3 linked regions of the Homo sapiens genome follow. The protein of the gene in region 1 interacts with the protein of each later gene in a biochemical or structural test. Each region holds a gene or a part of one and is shown in the gene's direction. Other genes may lie near its edges. The genes, in order: ATF1, RPS6KA5 and GABPA.

Region 1 (5,682 bases):
ACATTCTCACTTATATGTGGGAGCTAAAATATTTGAACACATGGAAGTAGAGAGTGGAAAAATAGGGCTGGGCGTGGTGGCTTATGCCTGTAATCCCAGCACTTTGGGAGGCCGAGGCGGGAGGATCACTTGAGCCTAGGAGTTCAATGCAAGCCTGGGCAACATACCCATTGCTACAAAAGATAAAAAATTAGCCAGGCATGGTGGCGTGTGCCTAAAATCCCAGCTACTCGGGAGGCTGAGGTGGGAGGATTGCTTGAGCCCAGGGGGTTGAGGCAGCATGATCGCACCACTGCACTTCAGCCTGGGCAACAGAGCAAGACCCTATCTCAAGAAAAAAGAGAGAATGGAAAAATAGGTAACAGAGACTGGGAACGGTGAGGGGCAAGGAGGAGGATGAAGAGAGTTAAAGGGTACAAACCCATACACAGTAAGATAAAAGGAATAAATTCAGTGTTTCATAGCAGAGTAGGATGACCACCCTTAACAAAAACCTATTAATACTCAGGTGATGGACACCCTGAATCCCCTGACTTGATCGCTACACATTATATACATGTAACAGATTTTCTCATGTGCTCCATAAATATGCACAGAAACATTTTAATGGAAAAAACCATACAGGCCAGGCGTGGTGGCTCACACGTGTAATCCCAGCATTTTCGGAGGCCAAGGCAGGAGGATCACTTGAGCCCAGGAGTTTGAGACCAGCCTGGGCAATATAGGGAGACCCCATCTCTAAAAAAAATTTAAAACATTAGCTAGATGTGGTAGAGGCAGGAGAATCACTTGAACCTGGAGGCAGAGGTTGCAGTGAGCCATGATCACGCCATTGTACTTCAGCCTGGGCAACAGAGCAAGACTCTTGTCTCAAAAATAAAACAAACAAAAAAAAACACACAAGTAGTTAATAATCATATAAAAGACTACTCAGCCTTATTAGTAATCAAAGAAATACACATTAATGCTACACATTTAGATACCCTTTATACCCACCCAATTGGCAAAAATTTTAAAGTCTAACCAAGAGTTGGCAAGGATTTGGAACAATGGTCAGGAATTCATAGATACTACTATAGGAGTGTAAATTGATGCAGCCATTTTGGAAATTAGGCCTTATCTTGTACAGTTGACGTGGGTATACTCTGTGACCCAGCTGTTTTAGTCTGTGTGACTGAGAGGAACTTGGAGGAAGTATGTATAAGAATTTTCATAGCAGCAAAAAATCAGGAAACAACCTCAAGATTCATTGATAACAGAATAGGTACATATTGAGCCTAAACATAAAAATGGGGGGAAAAAAGAATAGGTACATAAATTGTGACTGTATTTATAGAATGGAATGTTTATTTGTAATGACTGAATGAATAATCATTTCAACATGAATAAATCTTAGAAAAATTGAATGAAAAAACAAGTTGCAACAGAATACACAAAGTATGATATTTTATAATTTTAGAAAATAAATGATAGCAGTTTTAGGGTCATATACGTATATACTACAACTATAAAAATAAGAAATGAGATGTCACGTAGCAAAAATTATAAAGTGGTAATACTGTCTGTCATTGGGCATATAAGGAAAAGGGTACCTCACATACATTACTGAGGGAAGTACGGAGTTTTATGGTATCTACTTGCCCCAACATTTCTACTTGTATGTGACAAAAGATACCATAAAGAAACTTAAAAATAAGTCTGTTAACTGGGAAAAATATTTGCAACTTTTATATAAAGAGAAAGAATTACGAGATGTATAGGTTATATAAAGATTTATTTCTGTAAATAAGAGACCTAACAGAAGGAAACCGGTCTGTGAAAGATGGCCTTGTAAACATGAAATTATTCCAAACTTTGTGCATAATGAGGGAAATGTTAAAGCAGTGAGGTTCGCTTTTTGTCAGCCGCTAGACTGACAACCATTTTAAAATGTTCATAACAGGCACTCTCATGTACTGCCCCTGGGAATGTAAATGGTACAAATACTCTGGAGGACATTCTGGCATTTTTTCCCTTTTTTCTTTCTGGTTTGACTCTGGGATTTTTTTCCTTCCTTTTTTCCCCCCTTATTTCTCTGTACTTCAATGAATATAAATTGGCACTATCTCTTGACTTTAAGTGAATATAGCTTGTGATCCTTCAAGAAATACATGTGTAGAAATACACGTAAAGAATGGAGGCTGAGTGGGTGGCTCATGCCCATAATCCCGACACCGTGACCAGGAGTGAGACCAGCCTAGGCAACATACTGAGACCTCATCTCTACAAAAATAAAATTAGCTGGTGTGGTGGTGTACACCTGTAGTCCCAGCTACTTGAGAGGCTGAAGTGGGGATATCTTGAGTCCAGGAGGTCAAGGTTGCAATGAGCTGTGATTGTGCCACTGCACTCAGCCTGGTTGACAGAGTGAGACCCTGTCTCAAAACAAAAGAAGAAAAAAGAAAAAGAATGTTTACTGGAAACCACTTAAAACAAACAAACAAACAGAGCTTAAAGGTAAAAATAAAGTCTTTTTGTGAGGGGAAAGATTTTGTACAGTCCTTTTAAAGATGTGTACTAAAAAGCAAGTTGCAAATAGTATCTACATATATAGCATAAAAATCTTAAAATAGTACTGTTTCTTTCTTTCTTTCTTTTTCTGAGACAGAGTCTTGCTCTGTTGCCCAGGGTGGAGTGCAGTGGCGCGATCTTGGCTCACTGCAACCTCCACCTCCCAGCTTCAAGTGATCCTCCTGGGTCAGACTCCCAAGTAGCTGGGATTACAGGCATGTGCCACCACAGCTAATTTTTGTATTTTTAGTAGAGATGAGGTTTTGCCATGTTGGCCAGGCTGGTCTCGAACTCCTGACCTCAGGTGATCTGCCCGCCTTGGCCTCTTAAAGTGCTGGGATTACAGGCATGAGCCACCATGCCTGGCCAATACTTCCGATTTCTATATGTATATAAACTTACATATGACTTCACAGAAATGTTTTAAGAGGACATGCACAGAACTGAGTATTTGCTCAAGCATTGTTTGTAATTTGAACTTAAATAAAAGAAGTCATGTGTCAGAAGTTAACCAGAGGACCCATAATTTCACTCTTTGGTATTTATTCAAGAGAAATGAAACCTTTCTACAAAAAGACTGGCACAAAAACATGCCTATGCAGCTAACCCTAGAAACATCGCAAGAGACTGGATACACAAATGGTGGTTATATTCATACAGTGAACTATGTCCAGCAGTGTGAAGGAACAAACCCCCATGCAGCAACATGGATGAACCTCAGATGGGCTGAGTGAAGGGACACCAGAGTACATAGTGTATGACACTCTTACATGAGGTTCTAGAATAGGAAAAAAACTAATCTCTGGTGATAAAAATCAAAACGATAGTTGCTTGGAAGGGGGCTGACCAGGAAGGGGCATGAGGGAACTTTCTGGGACAGTGGGAATGTTCTGTTGTCTTGACAGAGGTGTGGGTTATACAGGTATACACAATTGCCAAAACTGACTGAATTCTACACTTAAGATCTATGTATTCTCTGTGTGTAGATGATACTTTAAAGAGAAAAAAAGGTGACCACGGAAAATTACTGAAGAACATTTACCATTTAAAGAATGTGAAGTTTTTTCTAACATTGTTTTTTTAATGCTCATATTTAGAGAAGCTGCTCGAGAATGTCGCAGAAAGAAGAAAGAATATGTGAAATGCCTGGAAAACCGAGTTGCAGTCCTGGAAAATCAAAATAAAACTCTAATAGAAGAGTTAAAAACTTTGAAGGATCTTTATTCCAATAAAAGTGTTTGATTCCTAAGAAAGAAAATATTTTTGTGGACATGCATAAAAATTAAATGGATTTCCTAGTGGAGTTTTATAAATTAAAAGGTCAAAACTGAAGCTTTTTATTTAGGCTTTTCCAAATCAAGGATAAATATCTTACGCACGATATCTAGTGACAGAGGAGAAAGTGGAAAATGACCTCAAGGAAGCTACGGGCACAACTGGAAGCTTTGTAGAAATTAAACATATTCAAGGAGCAAGAAATGAACTTTCAGCAGTCTAAATTTTCTAAATAACCAATAGTTGCCAATCTAAAATGGCAGAGAAGATGAAATTTGATAAACTGAATTTTTTTTAAAAATCCATTTACCCTACAGGTTTGCATTTGTTTGCTGAAATTTACCTTTTTTTAGTTATATATATGTGTGTGTGTGTGTGTAATTTCTGCCAATAAATTCTAAATTACAAAGGTAAGAGAAAACCTAGTACATTACTAAATATATAAAGTATATGTTCTGATTATGTATACTTGTTCTAGTGTCAAGTCTTTTTAAGTGGGTTTTTAAAAGTTTGTTATTGGACTTGAATGGATTTTTGAGACTAGGTTAATTATTTTTGAGGTCTTATCCTAAAAGGCATCTAAGGTACATGAATGGAGTATGGTGATTTTATAACATTTTTTATCAGAATGGAAAAAGAACTGTTTAAAAGTTTGATACTTTTAAATAGTTGGTTTTTTTGCTTACTCTGGTAATGATTTTCTACAAATACATAATAAATTGTTTTTTTGAGTCTATATTCTGTATGCAGTTGAATATCCATTACTTATTCTGCTGTGCTTTAATAGAATGGAATGTTTACAGGCCCTTAAAATATTATTTTTAAAAAACCTTCTGAAGATACATACCAAAGTTTTTCCAAGAAGATTTTATAATCAATTTAATAATGTAAGGTTTATCAGATTCTATAATAGTATAGTTATTAAGGCAATTTTATGTTAGAGACTATTTTGTAATGTAGTGAGTGGTACCTTTATAAGAAAAGTGACTGCCAATATATTTTTATAGCTGATCTTTATAAATTCTAATGTTGAGTTTTTAATGATTATTTTAAATGTTTATATAGTTTAGTAAAATTTGCATCTCAAAGTATCATTTTTATATTATGGGACGTTTTCAGATTGGCTAATATTTGCATTGTAAATTTTGTATGCAGTTTATCTAAAATTCAAAAATACTGTCAGTACACCAGCGTTTAACATCTATATTCCAATTTGTATACAGTTTAAAATTGTACTGCAAAACTATTGTGTGCTCTTACACAGTATGCATCATATTGTTGTCTGTGAAATTAAAGGACATTTGATAGTCTACTGAATGTAAAATATAATGCTTGGTATATGAATGATAAGCTTGCTCCTGGCCATGCTGTTAATTATCCTAATGCTACGTAGAAATCTTCACTTAACTGATACATTTGTGTTTGACCCTCCTGATGAAATTTCTCATTAGAAGGGTCTTTTAAAATGGGACTCTGTTGACTTGGCAGCACTTTATGAAAAGAAAAAAAAGTTTGATCGCCAGGGGGATTACTTATATCACTTACTACCTTGTGTAAAGCCAGAATCTCAAACTGGTGGCCCGTTAGGCCTAAGAATATGAGGAGGTATGAGGTCACTGGGTTATGTCAAAAGACTTTTTCAACAGATGATAATATATTATTGGGTAGACACCGTGCTTGTTTACAACAGAGGTAGCCTAGCTCTTAGTGCCTTAACAGCTGGACATCTGCAAATATTTGTAAACTCTGCTGCCTTCAGACTTCTGGTGTAGGGCCTTGCTAACTAGACCCAGTTACTTACTCTAGCTGTATGAAACAGGTCAGGGCAAACCATTAATGGTTCCATAAATGCATAAC
Region 2 (7,120 bases), on another chromosome or scaffold:
TTGAGTAAAGTCTACTGTTAAAGTATTCCAGATTTTTAAATTCCAGTGTCCTTGCTGTGGAATCTAGTGTTGGCTTTCTGATGTCAGAATAATCAAACCCTGCTCATATACACATCCAGAAAACTTTTTCTAATGATGATACATTTAGCAAAATCGCAAGTCTTTAAAAATTCTAGTTAAATAGACTTACTTGAGACAAGTGTACATTGTGAAATCTAAAATAAAAATTTGTGACTATATAATACATAATCTTCATTATGTAGGCTATTTCTAAAAACTTAGTTTCTGTGCTGATTTCATGTTAAGTTTTTCAAACGTTAGCAGATTATAATGGCTACAGTAAGTTTTGTTCTAAATCTGGTAGCCATTTATTATTAAATGATTAATGATTAAACATTAATCATTTAATAATTACTTAGGAATTATAAATTACAATGTCAAATCTTCATACATCAGGCTCCTTGCACTATAATTACTTAAAATTAGTTTGCATCAATAGTCTATATAAACAGATATCTTAGTTTAGAGGAAAAAATATTCTATTTTCTAGGTACTTTAATAGTTTGGTCTTGTGAAAATTACATAGGTGTGTGTTTATGTATGTGTATACACACATGTATTGGGGGCTTACAATACCAAATTAATAAGACTGCCCCTCACTCCTTAAATCGACTATCTGCCCTGCCAGTAATCCCCCACCTGTACTGGTATATACAGAGTTTTCTCTGGTACAAATGATTAATCAAGAAAAAGGGTGTGAAATATTTGTGTTCGTTTCTTTTTAAATGAATAATGGGATACACATAAACTAGTAACACCACATTGATTTCCTAAAGACCTAATACAGCTTTAAGAGGGAATAACATTCCAGAGCTCCAGGATTATTTTAATTTAGCTTTCAAGATGGTTACGATTTTGATTTAATATAGAGACTTCATAGTGTTAAATTTTAGGGTTTTTTTTTTTTTTTTTGTATTTTTAGTAGAGATGGGGTTTCACCATGTTGGTCAGGCTGGTCTCGAACTCCTGCCCTGATGATCTGCCTGCCTCGGCCTCCCAAAGTGCTGGGATTACAGGCGTGAGCCACTGTGCCCAACCTAAATTTTAGGTATTTAAAACATCCATTGATGCTTTGTTTTGTTTTTGGGTTTTTTTTTTATTGTTGTTACTTAAGGGATGCATCTTATTTATTTGGTTGACTTTTATCTAGACATCATAAATGTGATGCTTACTTTTTTATTAGCCACTTCATTGTTGATGTCTTAATGGGAGATCTTAGTTTGATGAATCTACTCTTTGAAATTTTAGTTTGATTAGTCATTTGTTTCTGCTAGGTTTTGGCTTTTGTTTTGTTTTTTGAGTGATAACCTAAGAAGTTTCTACAGTGGAAAATATCATTATGACATCTTCATCCCTTATAAAGTTGTTTCATTTAGAGGAATTTTTCAAAGCCTATGTTGAGAAATGGGCAAATTAAGTAAAGCATCATAACAATTTTTTTTATAGTGAACTCATTTTATTTATAGAACGGCAAACACATTCACTCTTTTTGCTAACATCCGGGGCTTTTTTCATTGTGACTGCTTTGCACACTTAAAAATGTTTCTCCCAGGCCGGGCACGGTGGTTCATGCCTGTAATCCCAGCACTTTGGGAGGCCGAGGCGGGCGGATCACAAGGTCAGGAGATTGAGACCATCCTGGCTAACATGGTGAAACCCTGTCTCTACTAAAAATACAACAAAAATTAGCCGGGCGTGGTGGCAGGCGCCTGTAGTCCCAGCTACTGGGGAGGCTGAGACAGGAGAATGGCATGAACCCGGGAGGCGGAGCTTGTAGTGAGCCGAGATCGCGCCACTGCACTCCAGCCTGGGCGACAGAGCAAGACTCTGTCTCAAAAAAAAAAAAAAAAAAAAAGTTTCTCCCAGCAAAGGCTAACTGGAATTTATTTTTGTTTAAAGACAAATACTTTTAATGTGGATAAAATAAAAGTTGGAAGTATGCCTTTCATGTGGCAAACTGGAAATTAGTGGTTAGTACTCCATTGCAGCATTAAATACCAATTCTTTACAATAGGGTGCACATATCAGATGCTGTTTTTCCCTTAACCTTTGCACTTTTCATTGAAAATGTTTTCAAATCAAATCTTGTTTTATTGGGTTTCACATGATTGGACTAATACTTACATATATGCTTCTTTTTAAGGTATTTAGACATTGACAATTAGTTATTTCCTTATGAGCCATAGCTTTGAAAAACCATTTTAGAAGAAATTTCCATTTTTTAAACAAAAGTGTTGGGAGGCCGAGGCGGGCAGATCACGAGGTCGAGACCATCCTGGCTAACATGGTGAAACCCCGTCTCTAATAAAAATACAAAAAATTAGCCAGGCATGGTGGTGGGCACCTGTAGTCCCAGGTACTTGGGAGGCTGAGGCAGGAGAATGGCGTGAACCCGGGAAGCAGAACTTGCAGTGAGCCAAGATCGCACCACACCACTGCACTCCAGCCTGGGCGACAGAGCGAGACTCCGTCTTAAAAAAAAAAAAAAAAAAAAAAAAGTGATTTTTTAAAGAAAAGATACCGATAATTTGTCTTTGCTGTAGATGAATGCCACGTTTTTATATACTAGGACTATTACTGAATAATACTGTTTATTTCTTTAGATCAACGAATATATTAAATTCTGTCTTTTTTGTTCAAATAAACGCTGTGAGATGATTGGGAAGGCTGTGTGTTGAAGTTAGATGCAAAGTTGGACCTTGTACAGTGAGCCTCTTGTGAGAACTGAGCCATGAAAGATAAAGCCTGTCATTCATGTCTGCCTTGGCCTGTGCCCAGCTTTATTAGTAAAAACCATTCAGTTTTTACTAATGATATCTACCAGTATCTAAAGAGAAATACCTTCATCCTCTAGAAGAAAACAAGGTTACCCAAAGAGCTCACTTAATTCCTTCCTTTTTCCCTGAACCCTTGGTTTTAAGTGAAGAGTAAAATGTACTAGATATGACACTCTCTCTGAGTATTACTGAGGATTTTGTGGAAAAGGCAGTTTGGTACTTTATTTCCAGCTTAGCTGCAGACTTGGTGACCCTGAGCAAATCACTCAGCCTCCCTTTGCCTCCATTTCTTCATCTGTAAAATGGGGTTAACCTGTGCCTCCCTGTCTCACCAGCATACTGAGGGATCGATTAAAGAGGATTAAAAAAATCCATAAGGTACACTGATTCCAAAGATGGGTAGAATGATATTTAATAATGAAGACTTTCTGTTATATAGCAATTTAATTTTAAAAGTATCTTTACCAGGCCAGGTGCGGTGGCTCACTCCTGTAATCCCAGCACTTTGGGAGGCTGAGGAGGGTGGATCACGAGGTCAGGAGATCAAGACCATCCTGGCTAACACGGTGAAACCCCGTCTCTACTAAAAGTACAAAAAAATTAGCCAGGCATGGTGATGAGCGCCTGTAGTCCCAGCTACTCACGAGGCTGAGGCAGGAGAATGGCATGAACCCGGGAGGCGGAGCTTGCAGTGAGCCGAGATCACGCCACTGCACTCCAGCCTGGGGGGCAGAGTGAGACTCTGTCTCAAAAAAAAAATAAAATAAAAGTATCTTTACCCACTTCTCTGTAGTGAATATTGACTAGCATTTTGAAGTAGGAACTAACAAAGTATAAAATTAAGTAGATTTTTTATATTTATGGGTATTGTTCTAGTACAAATTTATGGTGTACACTGTCGGTCTGAGTGTGGGTTTAAAATATATCATTGTGCTTGGCTAATTTGTAGAATGTCTTATTTGAATTGACTTCATTTATTTCAGAGGAATGCATAGATGATCAGATCAAACTGTCGTCATAGCAGTGTTTTCAGCACATACGAGAATCTTAGAGTTTAGGAGCCTTAGAGCTCACCCAGTGCAATTTCCTGCCGGAAGCAGATTCCTTCCTGGTGACCTCACCAACAGGTGCTTGTGCAGCCTTTTCCTGAAAACTTTTTGGGAAAGTGGGGGCTGCTACCTCACTACTTTGATGTGTACCTTTTGTTCAAGAACTTTCTAAAACTTGGAGCTAATCATGGGTTATTTCAGAAGATGTAAGCATTTTAAGTTTTTTATTGAATTCCATCCTTATTTAAAAGGCCTGGTTATGTAATATTTTCTGTTTTTTTTTTTTTTTTTTGTATGGTTTCCCACATTGATTAGGTTGTTTTCTTCATTTTCTTAATAGATTAAAAATACTTTCTTCTCTTTCTATTTGTGTCTTCTTCCATTTAGTATTTATGGGAGGGAGCAAGAAGGGAAAGGATGTCTATTTTTAAAATTGACTACAATCATGACTGTTCTTCTTGTCATTCTGTAGCAGCTGGATTTATTACCATCTCTTATTTAAAGGTCCTTCAGAACACGTTGAAGCAGTTCATTTCAGGTCAATGGCTGGTAAGCAATGTCAGGACCTCTGGGGAAGGAGAAGCTGACGGGATCCCAGAGGAAAGAATTGAGGTTGTTTGCTCCCTTGTAGAAAGCCCACAGATCCCTTCCCAGACTAGAAAAAAAGTGCCAGAGTGTCCTGAAACTTTCCTTCTAAGGCACATACTTCAAAGAGACTGGGGATTCCTTTGTTTTAAATATAGGTGGGGTCTCACAGTGTTGCCCAGGCTGGGCTCAAGCGATCCTGCCACCTGGGCCTCCCAAAGTGATGGGATTACAGGCATGAGCCACCATGCACGGCCATGGAGATTCTAATGTGGTGCCAGCTGCCAGGTAAGAAAGCTGTGAGACAATGTGTTGATTTTCCTTTACTACGTCAGGTTTGAGGACATCATCTAGCATCAACGGGTAACGTCACCCTTTGTTCCATCTTTGGGAAATAATAGTAGTAGCTTGTTACTGTTAGCTGACCCCTACATTAGCATCAATAAAGTAAATCCCTTTAACTTTCCTTTTGGCCTTTCCTTTCTCTCTCTCTGCCTCCCCACCAGCCCCGACTCTCTCCTGTGTGCGTACACATCCACACACACCTCCATGGTATTCCTTCTTTCTCCCACCTAAGGGAAGCTGTGCCCGATCTTGCTGCAGTCCAGGTCACCGTACTGAGATGAGTCAGCCACAGACTCTAAACACTAGCAGCGATTAGCCGTATGTAGCCACCAAGTGCACTGTTTTAGACAGGTTTACACAGCTCTTTGCTGTCCACTCATATCAGCTGTGTAGTAGCCCAAGGCAGCCTGTCAGGCAGAAGAATTACCAACCAAAGTGGATCTATTCATAAGATAAAAGATCCGGAGTCCGTGCCCTCTTAAAAAACTTTTGTCTTCAGACATATGGGTGCGTGTTCATCTCTGGCCAAAACTTTGTTTCCAGTTTCAAAGGGCTGGTTGCGAAGGTGGCCTTGTAACCTTTCTGTTGCCGGCTCTGTTAGTTGCCTGATAAGCAGTAGCTAATTCATCCTCCTCAGAATTTGAGAGTGGCATCTATTAGATTCAGACCACCAAGGTGCCTGCGCGGGCTCTCCTGGTTACGACTGAGTCCCCTTTTCTCATCTGTGGGGTGAACGCTTCTATTTGCAGAAATTTGCTTGCATCTTTTTCCTTTTATTTATTATTACTTTTTAGAGATGCGGCCTTGCTCTGTTGCCCAGGCTGGAGTGCGGTGGACTCTTTTCTTTTGTTGATCTTTGCCATCCTCTGCCTGGCTTAATGAGGTTCTTTCCCTGCGTATTTATGTCCCAGGAGCTCACCTTCCCCCTAGGTTTTTAAGAAGGAAGCAGAAAATGTTACAAAGTATAAGGGATTCTATGAAGTCCATAGATAGGATTTGCTTTGGGAGTAGATGATTTCTTCTTATTTTGGTGTAAACATCAATTTGGATGGCAATTAGAATGTCTTTAGCCTCTTTAAAAAGCCCTTCTGGGGCAAACCTTTGCAAGTCACTCAGCTGGCATGTAATGAGATTTTTATTTGCATGGCTTTTTTTTTCTAAGTCTCTCTAGAAGAACATAAGGACATTCTGAACATGCAAGGAATACAGTTATTCTCACATCAAGGATCAATTTTATTTTGTATCTTCATTTTATGTCATTTTCCTTTATTTTATTCACATTAATCTAGCATTAATTCCCCCCAGAGGGAATGATATTTTTGGTTGCTGCCACCTGTGTTATTAAGTGACAGCTTTTCTTTATCTGCTTTTCTGAATTTCATATTTATATACTTTATTGTAGTTTTTTAAAATCTATTCTAGCTGGGCTAGAATCTTCCAAGTATTAATTCATAATGAACTTCCCTCTTCTGGAATTGTTTAGGAGGGCTAATGTTCCATGTTCCCTTCGTTGCTATAGATATGAAGTTATTTCGATGTTCTTTGAGTGCTTTATTATAGCGATAACTGGTACTGCCTTTGATTAAAGGTGAGCTATATGGAGTTAAGCATTTTTATACTAGTAACTATTTATTGAGAATTTTCAGAATTCTATAGCTACTTGTCTTTAACAGTTATAAGAGGCATGTATTTTTTTTTCCTTCATGGTCTGGAAGTTAGTTTTCTCTTTGTTTGGGTAGATCGGAATGAGTTGTTGAGCTGTGTTGAAAACACACATGAATCAAAAAAGCAGATGTATTGTAGAAATGTGATGTTTTCATGTTTCGGGAATTTGACCGGAAAGCTTTATGTATGGGTTTTATTTTTAACAAAGCAGTAAGGGCTTACTTTTTACCAACTTGTGTGTGTGTAAAGATGTATTTGTTCAAGCTTTAAGAATAAACCTGTCAATGTACAAATGCCTGATATCTGACTTGGACTTGTGGTTTGTTTGTTTGTTTGTTTGTTTGCTTTTCGGGGCGTGGGGGTAGGTATGTTGGATCTTGGAAATAAGTGAGAGTGTTAAAGAAGCACAACAATCTGTATCAGTGAATTTACATCTTAGAAGACTCACATTAACTTATGCTTGAATGAAAACCGTGTGTGGATAACTGAATGCAGCGTTTTCTGAACTGCCCTGAAGGACGGCTTAAAAGGAGAAGGAAGCCACTCGCCCATTTAGTGTTCTGAAAGGTCTTTTCCCCTAGGACCCATTCATGCCTCCCTTCATCAAGCCCCCATCCTTCGAGGGTTCCAGAAAATGAG
Region 3 (7,120 bases), on another chromosome or scaffold:
TCCACTAAAAATACAAAAAATAGGCGGACAAGGTGGTGCGTGTCTGTAGTCCTACCTACTTGGGAGGTTGAGGCGAGAGGATAGCCTGAACCTGAAAGGCGGAGGTTGCAGTGAGCTGAGACTGCGCCACTACACTCCAGCATGGTGACAGAGCAAGAGTCTCAATTGGAAAAAAAAGAGAGAGAGAAGTTTGGAAACTACTTGGCTGTCCAAGAAAACAAGGCACAAATGTAAATTATTTTTGCTTGAATTTTAATCCATCTTATATTTCAGTCACTGTTAAGACACCGAAAGCAACCCATTCCTTGACAGTTTTGCATATCAGAAATGCTAGCCAGACCCACATATTTTTCAGAACACATGACTACAACATACTCTGACTTTGCTTTTGTATCAGTTATGGATGAAAATGTTAATGATAGCATTTTGTTTTATTATATACCCAATAAGGAGAGAGCTCTGGTGGAGGGATTTTTCCACCGTAATTCAATGCTTGCAGTTTTCATTCAAGGTGCTTTCTCTGGCCAGGTGCAGTGGCTCACTCCTGTAACCCCAGCACTTTGGGAGTCTGGGGTGGGCAGATCACTTGAGATGAGGAGTTGAAAGTGCTTTCTCTGCTGGTGAATAAGAAATGAGCTCTGGAGAGAGGCATTTCTTAATTGTTTATAATTTTATTCTTGTGAGGATTCTCCCAGATGTTTTTTTTAAGTATCTATGATACTAAAAGACTTAGTACATTCATTGTATTTGCAGCATTTATTTCCAATTTCCATTCTTACTAGATAAGTAAGTTGAATGTCCTGGTTGAAGCTTTGTCCTTGGTTTCACAGATTTCCTTCCCTGCAGAGGTTTTGAAATGAATAAGGTAGATTCTGAATTGTGAAACATGTGAGTCATGTTTATTGAAACACTTTCTTATAAGAAATCTCAAGAACACAACAAAGATAGTGCATAGATGGTAGTTTCATTTTTCCCAAATCCACGTTTTTTCCAGTCTTTCCCAGGTCAGCTGTTTGTTGTGGCTGTCTCTTTCTGGTTCTCTTATTGCTTCTCAAACTTTAAAGCTTATTCATAGGCTTTTCCCAGAACAGAAGTCAAAGGTGTCTTGTGTATCTTTCCATTTCCATGCAGTTGAATGAGTCTTCCTCAGAAAAGCTCTGCTCTGGAACCATTGCTTTGTCTTTTAAAGCAACAAAGTCCCACAGCCTAGATGAGTGTCTCACGGAATTTCTTGGTGATCCAGCCATGGTTCTTCACTCTGCCGGGGTAGGGAAATCCCATCTGCTTTGGAAATCTAGTGCTCAGTTCAGAATTGGGAGATGGGCAGGATGATGTGTAAGGGTATTTCTAACAGACTTTCTAGAATTCACAAGTCTTACTTCTCAGAATAGGGTTTTTTGAGCTCAGTGTAGTTAGTACTCTGGTCCCTTCTGTAGAGAGAAGTCTGCAGCCTATCTGCGAAAGGCACTGATTCTGGGACAGAACTGTTAATAACCCAGCCTCTATTATCCATCCTCAGTGATCTCTCAAGAAGCAGCAGTACTGAAGAGGTAGGGCTCCTTCTTCAGATATTTGTATGAGATTATTCACCTGAGCCACCACCTGCCTGCAGTCCCCCCTATGTTGAAACTACATCCAAGTCCCACTATACATGGGAGGATAATTAGGAAATGTCCCAGTACTACCAGTTCCATGATGTCCTTCTCGGTGTGAATCTCTGTCTTCTGTCACCAAAGGCAAATGAAGTTCTCAGTTTGCTAAGGGTTTTATTTAGGAAAAATAATTGTTTTATTCCTGTAGTGTCTAATGTTTCTTCATAAAATGGCTCCATATCCCCCAGGGCTTTGCCTCTCAAGACTGCTTACTTTGTGTGTAGCAAGGATTTGGAGGTTTCAGGGAGGAATGTGATATTCAGAGTGCCTGTACTTTGAAGAGATTGGTCTTGGACCAGTCTTTCAAAAACTTTTTTTTTTTCCCCCTGTGGTCTGCCTTCTGTCTTGAGAGTTTCCAGGAAACAGACCAAACTCCAATCTGAGAATTAGGACTTAGAAGGTGATTTTACAAGTTGATTATGCCTGTGCTGTGTGATGGTGATGCTTTCGTTTGCCTCTTTTGAGGCTAGGTTCCTTTAGTCTCAAATAGTTCCTCTTTGAGGAACTTTTATAAAATTCTGAGGAAAATTTACTACAAACATAAAGTGCGTATTTTTTTTATCAAGAGAGACCACAGTTCTGGAGGAGAATGCTCAGAACTAGGAGTCTGGATAAAACAGTGAGGTTGTCAGTTGACTGAAAAAGTAACTGTTTTGTGCACTGTGCTTTTTAAAAACATGTTTCTTTAATCCTCACAATAACCTCATGAGGCAGTAAGTATAGGTGTCTAATTTAAACTTGAAGAAGTTAATGTTGAAAGAGGTCGGTAATTTTACCAAAGTCATATAGTCAGTAAGAGCTAAGAACTAAATCCAGATCTGTCTGAAGCCAGTCCCATATAATTCTTAAGTCCTCAGTCTTCAGACCCTCAAAGCTCCCATCTGATAGGATTCTGACCTCTTTTTACTTCCCCAACCTTTTCCAGCTCTGCGTGTCTGGAACTGGATCCTGGCAAGGCACCCTTAGCGGAGTCTTCTTGGGAGCCCAGGCCTCAGTACCCAGAATGATTGCTGGAGGGTATAGTTTCAATTTCAAGAGAGAGGCATGCAATTTGTGATGGGCACAAAGTAGGCTGAAGTAATAGAGACTGGGATGTGCAATTCTTGTGAGAGGTAAAGAATAACATCTAAGTAGGGAATAACAACAGATAAGTAATGAATGGTTCTGTAAAGCCTTATCTCAGGACCTTTATAGTATTTTTATTTTGGGAACTATATTTTTAAATGTGAAATTATTTAGTTTAATTGAGACATTTAGGACTGCTACAATTGTGTTGAAAATTTGCTGTCTTTAAGTAGAAGCATTATAAAGCTTAAGCAGCTTTAGTCAAAAGTGGATGTTATAACAAATAATGGGAAGGAGGCCTTTTTGGTGGAGATACGTACCTAAATAATTTAATTTTGGTGTATATTTTATCTTTGATCTGATCTTGAAGATTTCCATATTTTTACATGGCTTTATGTGGATTTCAATACAAATGTTTACATTTAGAAAACCATAGTTCTCTGCAGAACTTTACTGAACACTAAAAGACATTGGAGCTTTTCCCTGTGTTATTTCTCTTAAGGTATCTTTTCCTTTTAAAGTGACTATCAAATATTTTTAAGGTTTTTATGCCAGTAAGTTTCAGTTCAGTGTTTTGGTTTTAATTGTGGAGTTCTTTTTAAAAGAACCATGTTTATTAAGTTGAGTTTTATTGGATTGGGGTTTTTATATTTTTGGTTTTAAATAAAAACAAAAAATTTTTGTTTTTTTCAGATGTATTGGCAAGTCAAGAACAACAGATGAATGAAATAGTTACAATTGATCAACGTGAGTATTTGTACCTATATTTGCCCTTTTATTAATAAGAAATGTTTATTTGATACCGCAAGGTAATAAAAAGGAAAATTATTTAAAAAAATTTTTTTTCTACACACAAAATATCTTTTGTTCTGTGGAATGAAAGCTCGACACAAGTACTTTATAAGATCCACTCATGTGTTTTTAAATGATACGATTAACATAACAGCTTGCTTTGTATCTCAGTTCACCAAAATTTGTTAGGACATCATTTGTTTCATCTTTACTGACTGTTAATTACCAAGTTGTAAGAACAATTCTAACCACATTCATACCTGACAGAACTTTCATGCCTGATAATAACTGGATATTAGGTAGCATCCAATTGAAATATCAGTATAGGTTGGATACAGCAGAGAAAATATTCAAGTGTCCAAAACAAACTTGAGGAGTTACAATGGGTTTGAAATGAAGAAAAAAGGCCAAGTTAAAATAGGAAAACAAATAGTTTTCATTTGGTGGGAGTTGCAATCAAAGTATACAGTTGTATACATTCTAATGGATCATCTGTCCCATGTGGCATTTTCCAAGGCTTGAAGAGTCTACCAGGGCAAACCCTTCGCCGCCTCCACTACTTTTGCTTGGCTTTTCCCCTTTCTTTTCTCTCGCTTTGCCTTCAGCTTTATTCTTTACCTTTGATTCATCTATATTGGGTACTGTACTTGCTAGAAGTACAGTCTAGAAGAGTCTTTTTGTTTCTCTTAATATCCATCTCCATTTTCATGTCATCTTTTCCATCTTTTACCTCATGTTGCATTTTCTCTTGGCATGTTTGGGTTTGGGTACCACCACAGTTGCTGTCTCTTAAACATCTTTCATTAAAACATTACTGTCTAGTTTGAGAATACTTTTAAGCCTGCTGAGCTCTTTTGGGGCATTTTTCCCCCCTTTTCAGCATGCATCTTTCTTTTCCGCTTATGCCATAAGCTTTTAGCTATGTTTTACCTGAGGTACGAACACACACGTCACAAGATCATCCCAACCGGCTAAAATTTTTAATGAGGAATTTGAGATACACAAAGAAAGTATAACTAACACCTGTGTACATCATTAGAAATAAAATTTTTTACACCAAGTATACCTGTTGTAGGTTTCATTTTCCTCTCTCCTACCAGAGAACTATCTTGAATTTTATGTTTATTACTGTCTGCATATTTTATATTTTTACCAACTATGTAATCGTAAACACTGTATAGCATTGTTTTCCACATGTTTAAACATTGTTTGTAAAATAATACATTGTACATATTATTTTATAACTTTTTTATCATTTGAGAATTACTCATGTTGATACTTGCAGCTGTTTCATTCATTTTCACTGCTGTATCTTTTAAATGCTGTGAAAACATCATTGAATGAATATTTGTAAGAACATGTGTGAGATGTTCGTGTCATAGGGTTTCTATCCTTTCAGCCTTACTCCAGATATTGCCAGATTCTCAAAGTGGTGGTGTGAATTCTCATTTGTCCACATTTAGTACAATATATTTGACAAACCGTTTTTATGAACAAATGTTTTAAGAACAAACATGTTTAAATACTCTTTGTCTAATGTGTATGCATCACTAAGTTATTTCCAAACAAGAATACTAGCTCTTACTAAGATGCACAAACTATAATGCAAGCGTTATACTTTACCATCTGAACTTTTTTGTTATTTTGTTTGAAATTGTGGATTGAGGCTTTCTGTAGTGAAGTACTTTCTTGGGGGTAATTCATAGGGCATTAGTTAAAGTGATAATGTCTTTCAGTAATTTTTTTTTTTTCCTGCTTGTATTGGAAGAAAAAAAATTTCTCCTTGTCTGTCTTTGCAGCTGTGCAAATTATTCCAGCATCAGTGCAATCTGCTACACCTACTACCATTAAAGTTATAAATAGTAGTGCGAAAGCAGCCAAAGTACAAAGAGCGCCGAGGATTTCAGGAGAAGATAGAAGCTCACCTGGGAACAGAACAGGTATTTTTGTATTTTCTTGTATTTATAAAATATATCTATCTAATTAGGTATATTTTGTTGTATTTTACTGTATGAAAAATGTGAATTTGGACTATCCCTCTGGCAGTTTTTAGACAGCATTTCTAGAAAAACAAAAATTGTTTTTGCCATGGCTGAGATTTAAACCACGGGACCAGTTTGTTGTCTTTGCCTTGGGCTAATCTATAACACTATAGCTAATGCTTTGTTCCTCTTACCAATTTAGGAAACAATGGCCAAATCCAACTATGGCAGTTTTTGCTAGAACTTCTTACTGATAAGGACGCTCGAGACTGCATTTCTTGGGTTGGTGATGAAGGTGAATTTAAGCTAAATCAGCCTGAACTGGTTGCACAGAAATGGGGACAGCGTAAAAATAAGCCTACGATGAACTATGAGAAACTCAGTCGTGCATTAAGGTAAGCCTTTATTACTTTTTTTTCTGTTATCAAAAATAGAAACTTTCTAAAAAATAGTTTCTTATTCTAGATGTAATAAGCATTGTTATGTAATGATATTAAAAACTTGTTTATGTTTTTTTCTTTACATATTAAAAAACCTTTTTAAAAAGATCTTAATAATTTCGAGGTACAGTTTTTTTTTTACAAAATTACTCTAAGATTGTTTGTTTTTATCTGATTTGAAAGCTATAATACTCTGTCCCAAAAAAAAATGTTTAATTTTTGAGGTTTTTATTATTTGCATAGATGAATTGAGTGTTAGTTTTTAATGAGTAAGCAGAAACTGTCCTCTGTTTTTACAATTACAAGCAGAATATTGACCCATTTTCTACACAATCTGCCTAAATCTGGATATCCAATCTTTACATTGATACAAACTCTCCGTAAGTAGTATAAGGTTTTTTGACAGAAATTACTATCAGAAATTATGCCTACTACAGTGATGGAAATTCAACAGGTACATTTAAGTATCTGAGAAGAAGGATATATAAGAATATCACGGAATTATGTCTGATTTTTTGGGAGATTGAATATAGTAAAATAGTTCTGCAATTCACGAGTTTTTCTAAATAGCATGCTTTTACTGCTTCTTCATGTTTCACTTGGCCATTTTCACACTGAAAGATTATAATTTAGCTCACACACACACACTCTCCCTTCCCCTTTCCATCCCTTCATCTCAGTATCCCAATATAATTATATGGAAATTTTGGTTCAGCGAGTATTCATTGTTACAGTATTACGGCCATGTAACTATTATTACATAGTTGGCTGTGATTATTTTTCTTTTCCTGAATGACCCTTTTTTTCTCAGAGTTCATGAGTAACTAAAATGTTTAGTTTTCAAAATGCTTATCCTTTACCATTCAGTCTCAAACACATTGCCAACTGTCTAAAGATTCTTCGTTTATAATCATAATTAAAGCTGCCATTTTTGAGAGTTGATACAGATTGTATACATACAAGTCCCCTCAAAATTACAGGTAAATTGTTAGAGTTAATAATTAAGATGTCAGTTCCCCCCCAGATTGATCTAAGTTTCAGTGCAGCAACTTAGTTTAATTTGAAAAATCAAACTAAGTTTTTCATAGAACTTGAGAAGATAATTGTAAAATTTACATGGGACTATAAAGTACCATGGTAGTCAGGACACCTGAAGATTAGCAAAGTGGAAAGACTTGTCCCACAGGAT

What was found.
Region 2: of the proteins of ATF1 (region 1) and RPS6KA5, one has a biochemical effect on the other in vitro, tested with the Homo sapiens proteins (one study listed by BioGRID).
Region 3: the proteins of ATF1 (region 1) and GABPA form a complex in vitro, tested with the Homo sapiens proteins (one study listed by BioGRID).

The regions. Positions count from the first base shown.
Region 1 is NC_000012.12:50,815,988-50,821,669, forward strand, and holds the end of ATF1 (cyclic AMP-dependent transcription factor ATF-1), read left to right. Parts: intron 1-3,647; coding exon 3,648-3,792; 3' UTR 3,793-5,175; downstream 5,176-5,682.
Region 2 is NC_000014.9:90,847,522-90,854,641, reverse strand, and holds the end of RPS6KA5 (ribosomal protein S6 kinase alpha-5), read left to right. Parts: 3' UTR 1-6,781; downstream 6,782-7,120. UniProt on the Homo sapiens protein: Serine/threonine-protein kinase that is required for the mitogen or stress-induced phosphorylation of the transcription factors CREB1 and ATF1 and for the regulation of the transcription factors RELA, STAT3 and ETV1/ER81, and that contributes to gene activation by histone phosphorylation and functions in the regulation of inflammatory genes.
Region 3 is NC_000021.9:25,758,902-25,766,021, forward strand, and holds part of GABPA (GA-binding protein alpha chain), read left to right. Parts: intron 1-3,410; coding exon 3,411-3,464; intron 3,465-3,737; exon of another isoform or gene 3,738-4,480; intron 4,481-5,308; coding exon 5,309-5,449; intron 5,450-5,693; coding exon 5,694-5,886; intron 5,887-7,120.